2 linked regions of the Homo sapiens genome follow. The protein of the gene in region 2 interacts with the protein of the main gene of each other region in a pairwise test. Each region holds a gene or a part of one and is shown on either strand. Other genes may lie near its edges.

What was found.
Region 1: the proteins of NOXA1 (region 2) and MORN3 interact in binary tests that used the Homo sapiens proteins (3 or more experiments, as listed by UniProt).

Annotation. Positions count from the first base shown.
Region 1 is NC_000012.12:121,663,093-121,666,741, reverse strand, and holds part of MORN3 (MORN repeat-containing protein 3), read left to right. Parts: intron 1-2,420; exon of another isoform or gene 2,421-2,652; intron 2,653-3,649. UniProt on the Homo sapiens protein: Assembles a suppression complex (suppresome) by tethering SIRT1 and MDM2 to regulate composite modifications of p53/TP53.
Region 2 is NC_000009.12:137,429,871-137,433,519, forward strand, and holds part of NOXA1 (NADPH oxidase activator 1), read left to right. Parts: intron 1-751; coding exon of another isoform or gene 752-880; exon of another isoform or gene 881-905; intron 906-913; coding exon 914-973; intron 974-1,204; coding exon 1,205-1,230; intron 1,231-1,365; coding exon 1,366-1,471; intron 1,472-3,158; coding exon 3,159-3,204; intron 3,205-3,334; coding exon 3,335-3,393; intron 3,394-3,582; coding exon 3,583-3,649.

The sequences.
Region 1 (3,649 bases), on a different chromosome or scaffold from region 2:
GTGAGAGACATCCAGCAGGAGAACGAAGCACCCCATAAAAGCAAATTATTAGAAAGGCAGGAATGGAGCCATCCTCAGGGAAGGCTTAGGACAACTTCTCCATCTATCTGCTTCTCCCTGGCTGGCCTTTTTTCTCTCCTCCTGCAAGTATACCTCTGCATGATACACATGGCTGCCAGCATCTTAGTGACAGGATGGAGGAATCCTCTTCACTTCCTGATATAGTTTTGTCTTGTTTGAGACAGAGTTGTGCTCTGTCGCCCAGGATGGAGTGCAGTGCTGCGATCTCGGCTCACTGAAACCTCCACTTCCCAGGTTCAAGTGATTCTTGTACCTCAGCCTCCCAAGTAGCTGGGACTAAAGGCACACACCACCACGCCCAGCCAATTTTTGTATTTTCTGGTAGAGATGGGGATTCACTTGCCAGGTGCGGTAGCTCACGCCTGTAATCCCAGCTCTCAGGGAGGCAGAGGTGGGAGATAGCTTGAGCCCAGGAGTTCAAGGCCTGCTTGGGCAATATAGCGAGACCCCGTTCTCCACAAAAAGGAAGAAAAAAAAAGACAAATAAATAAATAAGTGAGACACGGATTCACCATGTTGGCCAGGCTGGTTTCGAATTCCTGACCTCAAGTGATCTGCCCACCTTGGCCTCCCAAAGTTCTGGGATTACAAGTGTGAGCCATCATGCCCAGCCTTTTCCCCTTATTTTCCTACTTGATAAGTTTTGGTTTGCCTCACTGTGTCCTGTGCAGACTCTCAGCTCTTCCATCCCCTGTATTAAATTTTCTCTATTTGAAATAACTAGCATTTCAAACTGTCCTAGGGTCTTCAGTGTTCCGACAACCAGCATCACTGCACTGCAGAAGACAGTGCAGTATGGTTTCTGTTGGGTCGTCTGGACCCCGAACCCTCAACTGATTCAGTCACCCAAACAGTAGCAGAAAATGCCAGGTCTTTTTTTTTTTTTTTTTTTTTTTGAGACAGAGTCTCATTCTGTCGCCCAGGCTGGAGTGCAATGGTGTGATCTCGGCTCACTGCAACTTCTGCCTCCCAGGTTCAAGCGATTATCCTGCCTCAGCCTCCTGAGTAGCTGGGATTACAGATGCACGCCACCAAGCCCAGCTAATTTTTGTATTTTCAGTAGAGACGAGGTTTCACCATGTTGGTTAGCTGGCCTCGAACTCCTGACCTCGTGATCCGCCCGCCTCAGCCTGCCAAAGTGCCGGGATTACAGGCGTGAGCCACCGCGCCCGGCCAAGACCTCGCGTTTTCTAATCCAAAAAATTAGCCGGGCGTGGTGGCGGGCGCCTGTAGTCCCAGCTACTGAGGAGGCTGAGGCAGGAGAATGGCGTGAACCTGGGAGGCGGAGCTTGCAGTGAGCCGAGATCGCGCCAGTGCACTCCAGCCTGGGCGACAGAGCGAGACACCGTCTCAAAAAAAAAAAAAAAAAAAAAAAAAAAAAAGGAAAGAAAAAGAAAACGCGAGATCTTAAAACCAGGTCTCAGGACTCCTATACGAGGTACTCCAGTACTGTTAGGCTAGGGACTTTCCCCAGCACAGGCCATATACTGTGCGTATCAACCCCTAACTCGACTGTTGGATGCCTCCTGCTCTCACTCTTCACCTTCTTCTAATAACAGGCCCCTGCTACCTTGGTCACAGAAATGAGCACGTAATCCAACTGGGCAAATCAAAAAATTGAGATGAGATTTTTCAAAATGGACTAGCAGAGAAAAAGCACCTTTCCCCTCTAATTCCCAGCCTATTGATTCCCATGTGTCTCCTGCATTTGCCTGCGGTAGGAGAGACTGAAGCCACCCACGGAAGGCATAGTCATGAGCATCCATCAGTGTCTTTTTTTTTTTTTTTTTGGTAGGGGCTACAAAAAAAAAAAAAAAAACAGGTTGTTTTCGCCTGTCCTGCCCCTCACTTCCTCCCGGTTTTATTTCCTTTAGGGACACCCCTCTCCCACTCTAAATCCCCAAGGTTCGGGTGGGCTGACTCCGCCCCCCTAGCAGGCCTAGCCAATCAATGTATTGGCTAGCCAATCACTCTGTTGCTCCTGGGTTCAAGCGATTCTCCTGCCTCCCAAGTAGCTGTGATTACAGGCACCTGCTACCATGCCCGGTTAATTTTTGTATCTTCAGTAGAGACGAGATTTCGCCATGTTGGCCAGGCTGGTCTCGAACTCCCGACCTCAAGTGATCCGCCCGCCTTGGCCTCCCAAAGTGCTGCGATTACAGGCGTGAGCCACCTCGCCCGGCTGCAACCATCATTTTCAAACCTCTTTGCCTTTACTCATGCAGTTCCCTGTGCCTGGACTGCCCTTCCTGGCCCCAACGTCACCCCCTCCAGGAAGTCTCTGAGTCCCCAGATTTGACCAAGTGCCCTTCTTCTGATATTGAAATCTCAGTGCCTACCTTCGTATATTGAAATTGAACTATGTGGGTATTCATCAGGCCTCTTTCATTTGCAAGAGGCAGAAATTCAACTCAGGAGGGCTTCAGTAATGCAAGTTCAGCCATGGTGGGATTCAGGGGCTTAATGTCACTGGAACTTGGCGTCTCCCTCCATGTCTCCATTTTGCTTTCCTCTGCGTTGAGTTCCTTCTTAAGTCAGCTTCCTCCCCTTGCAGGCCCGGGTGGGTGTGGTGGCCCAAATGGACTTACACGGAGTCTCATTGGACCAACTTGGGTCAGGTGGCCTGCACTGACCCAATCACAGCAGCCTGGTGGGTAGAATACACTGATTGGGTAGGCCTGCCAGGGGGCGGAGTCAGCCACCCAAACCTTGGGGGTTTAGAGTGGGAGAGTGGTGTCCCCAAAGGAAATAAAACCAGGAGGAAGTGAGGGGCAGGACAAACGCAAACAACCCAACAGCCCCTACAATGTGGTTGGGCCCTACCAGACCATGGGCTCCCCAAGGGCAAAAATAATAACAAAGGCTCCCATGATTTGAGAGAGGAAAAAAAAAATAAAAAAATAAAAAAAACCAATAAAGGCTAACATTGACATCGTATTTCCTACTTGTAGGCTCTAAGTGCTGTACACATATCCTGGAATCTAGTGATAAGAAACAACCCCATGAGATACTGTTTTTCTTTTCAGAAAATTAGAATGGTCCCGTAATTGCTCACAAATTGAATCTTTTCTCCCTCGGCTTTATTGCGGTATGATTGACAAAGAAAAATTGTATATACTTAAGATGTGTAGTAAGATATTTTCTTAAAAGTCTACATTTCGAAGGCCGGACGCAGTGGCTTACGCCTGTAATCCCAGCACTTTGGGAGGCTGAGATGGGTGGATCTCCTGAGGTCGTGAGTTGGAGACCAGCCTGGCCAACATGGGGAAACACCGTCTCTACTAAAAATACAAAATTAGCCAAACGTGGTGGCGCATGCCTGTAATCCCAGCTACTCAGGAGGCTGAGACAGGAGAATCGCTTGAACCCAGGAGGCGGAGGTTGCAGTGAGCCGAGATTGCACCGTTGCACTCCAGCCTGAGCAACAAGAATGAAACTCTGTCTCAAAAAAAAAAAAAAAAGTCTACATTTCGAAATTATTAGTACAATCAAAGTAATTAGCATATCCATCTCCTCACATTATTACCATTTTGTTTGTGTGTGGGGAGAACAATTAAGATCTATTCTC
Region 2 (3,649 bases):
CCCTGCCACAGATAGCGAGGTCCTGGGGGGATGCCTGTGTGCCTGCCACAGATAGCGAGGTCCCCGGGGGGGTGCCTGTGTCCCTGCCACAGACAGCGAGGTCCCAGGGGGGTGCCTGTGTCCCTGCCACAGGTAGCGAGGTCCCGGGGGGGGTGCCTGTGTCTCTGCCACAGCTAGCGAGGTCCCGGGGGGCGGGGGTGCCTGTGTCCCTGCCACAGATAGCGAGGTCCCGGGGGGTCTCCCTGTGTCCCTGCCACAGATAGCGAGGTCCCTGGGGGGGTCCCTGTGTCCCTGCCACAGATAGCAAGGTCTCACGGGGGCAGGGGCTGCAGTCCGACGGTCTGGGCCACGTCACGCCCACACTTGGGTCAGAGCCAGGCAACACCCCTAAAGTCACAGGAATGGGGAGCTGCTCACCCCCAAAGGCAGCGGGCGAAACATGGCGGAGAAGAAGAACTCCTGGTGGGCAAAGACTGGGTCACCCTTGGCTGGCCACGCCCCGGACTGGCCACGCCCCATTGGCTGGCCACGCCCCCTCGGTCACCTGCGCTGCGCCACGGCCGACTCCTGGGCCCAGTGCAGCTGCCCAGCAGGGGAGGCCTGGGGTGGGCGAAGCCGGGCTCTGAGCTGTGTTAATGCATTAACTTAGAGTCCGCATATCACAGTAGAGTGCTGTTTATAAGAAACCAAAATGTTTTTAAAGTTGTGCTAAAAATAAGTTAACATTGCAGCAGATGTTTTTCTCCATCAGACATTTCCCTCCATGGTGGTCTGGCAGACGTGGGCCGGGCATGGGCAGCTGTCACCCAGCCCCCGGGGACTTAGAGCTGCGGGGCACGGTGGGGCGGGCTGCAGGGAGCAGACCCTGCTGGGCCGCTGATCCCTGACCCAGCGTCCCCACTGTCCCCGCCAGGTGGTGGCCTCTGCCATCCCCGACGACCAGGGCTGGGGCGTCCGCCCTCAGCAGCCACAGGTGGGTTTGCGGCCCCTCAGACCCCTGCCTGGCCTCACCCAGCTTTCTGGGAAAGAAAATGCTGCACAAGCTCTGAGCCCTCCTGGGGCTGCGAAGTTCCTCTGATGGGAGGTGTGGGGTGGCCATCCCATCCCTGTGTAAGACCTGGGGAAACCACTCTTCAAGGTTCAGGAGGAGGGAGGGCGGCCCCCGACCCTTAACCAGAGCGAGGTTGTTGCTTTGTGTCCACAGGGACCAGGAGCGAACCATGATGCCAGGTAGGAGGGGCTGACTGGGCCCTGCGAGCGCGTGCCTTTCCTGCTGGGCAGAGGCCCTCCACATGGGGCCACGCGGGCCGGGCACAGGAGGGCAGTCAGATGGGCAGGGCCTGAGAGCCTCCCTCCTCTCCCTAGGTCCCTAATCATGGACTCCCCAAGAGCTGGCACCCACCAGGGCCCCCTCGATGCAGAGACAGAGGTCGGTGCTGACCGCTGCACGTCGACTGCCTACCAGGAGCAGGTGCGTGGGCCTGGGCCTCTTCCCCTGCTGGGGGTCGGTGCTTCTGCTGCCTCCGCAGACTGGGGACCACAATGGGACCAACATGAGGGTGGAGGGAGCAGCTCGCTGGGGGGTAGACGGGGCCGGGCTCACCCGTGGTCCTGGCCCAGCCCAGCCAGATGGGAGGATGCCTGGCTGTGCCCGAGGCGAGTGGGCATTGGCCATCAGGACAGGAGAGAGGTGGTGTCCAGTGGAGACATCCACGTAGCCCTGCAGGCCCTCAGCCCCCAGGACCACCTCAGTTTGGCCATTGCCCCTCCCCTCCCACTGGGGTGCGAGTGACCAGGAGTGACCCAGCTGGGGACAGGCGGGAGGCAGGACAGCTCTGGAGGGGCCCCAAGGCTCCCGCCCCCCATGGGGGCCCAGCAGCGACTCCATCCCCCGAGTCCTCCCGGACACCCCGGCACCTGGGGAGAGGCGGAGGAAGGCAGGAACCCCAGCTGCTCCCAGGGTGGCAGCCGTGGGCGGAGGCTCTGCTGCAGGATCCGGGAGGCCCAGAGAAGGCACCTGCATTTCACGCTGAGCGCATCTGAGGATGCGATCAGGAAGCAGCCCCGGCACTCTCTCTTTATGGATGCCCACTTCCAGTTTAACCGTGGCATCCCGGGGGCAAGGGCGCCCTCCAAGCTGTGCTTCACTAATTCCCTCAGGGTTTGGAACTATTTGCCCAGTTCCCACGATGGGCCTTTAAGCTCTCGTCCTTCCTAACCTAAGGCAACTTCAACCATCTGATAAATCTAATAATAAGTTACAATCGAGGCCGGGCACAGTGGTCTGTAATCCCAGCACCGTGGGAGGCTGAGGTGGAAGGATTGCTTGAGCCTGGGAGGTGGAGGCTGCAGTGAGCCATGACAGTGCCACTCCACTCCGGCCTGGGCAAGACAGCAAGACCCTGTCTCAAAAAAAAAAAAAAAAAAAGCCAGGCGAAGTGGCTCACGCCTGTAATCCCAGCACTTTGGGAGGCCTAGGCAGGCGGATCACAAGATCAGGAGATCGAGACCATCCCGGCTAACATGGTGAAACCCTGTCTCTACTAAAAAATACAAAAAATTAGCTGGGCATGGCGGCGGGCACCTGTAGTCCCAGCTACTCAGGAGGCAGAGCCAGGAGAATGGCGTGAACCCAGGAGGCGGAGCTTATAGTGAGCCAAGATGGCGCCACTGCACTCCAGCCTGGGCGACAGAGCGAGACTCCCTCTCAAAAAACAACAGCAATGCCTGACCCTCAGGGTCTAGCCAGCGCTGGGCTGTGACTTTGTGACTTGCAGCTGGTGAACTGGTCTCCTGCTCAGTGCCCAACTCAGGGCACACGGTTAATGTCGAGCCCACACAGAGGCCGGGGCCCAGGGACTGGGTCCTCAGCTTCCTGGGGTCACTGGGGAGCCCACCCACCTGGAGCTGCCACCTCGGTGGGCCTTGGGGGACGGGGCGCTCCCTCCTGGTGACAGGCAGCCTCTAGGTCTGCAGGGACCCAGCCCCATCCTAAGGCAGCCGACTTGTGGCCAGTGCCCTGAATTCAACACCCACAGACCACCTGCTGGGTGCTGGCCGGGCACACAGGCCACACCCTTGGTGTGGGCTCTGCGAGGACAGTACCGGCCTCCAGCACCTGACCGCCCCAGCCCACCCAGCCTGTGCTTCTCTTGCAGAGGCCCCAGGTGGAGCAAGTTGGCAAACAGGCTCCTCTCTCCCCAGGTATGGGCGTCCTCAGCGGCGGGGTCCCCGGGTGAAGGAGGAAGCTGCTGGTGCATGGGTGCCGGCTGCCCTCCACCCACAGGGCCCACTTTGGTGGTAGTGGCTGTGTCAGTCTTGCTCTGTCCTACAGGGCTGCCGGCAATGGGGGGGCCTGGCCCCGGCCCCTGTGAGGACCCCGCGGGTGCTGGGGTAAGAGGCTCTAGACCCTTCACCTGTCAGTCACCTGAGGGAGGCTGAGGCCAAGCCCCATCCCTCAGAATCAAGGCTTGCAAGCCCCCCTCACCTGCCCAGTCTCTGTCCACACCCCTCGGGCTGAAGACGGCCCTGACCAGGCCCTGGGCCTCAGCGACCACCCCTCCCCCTCCTGCCTGGACCCAGGGAGCAGGTGCAGGGGGCTCCGAGCCCCTGGTGACTGTCACCGTGCAGTGCGCCTTCACAGTGGCCC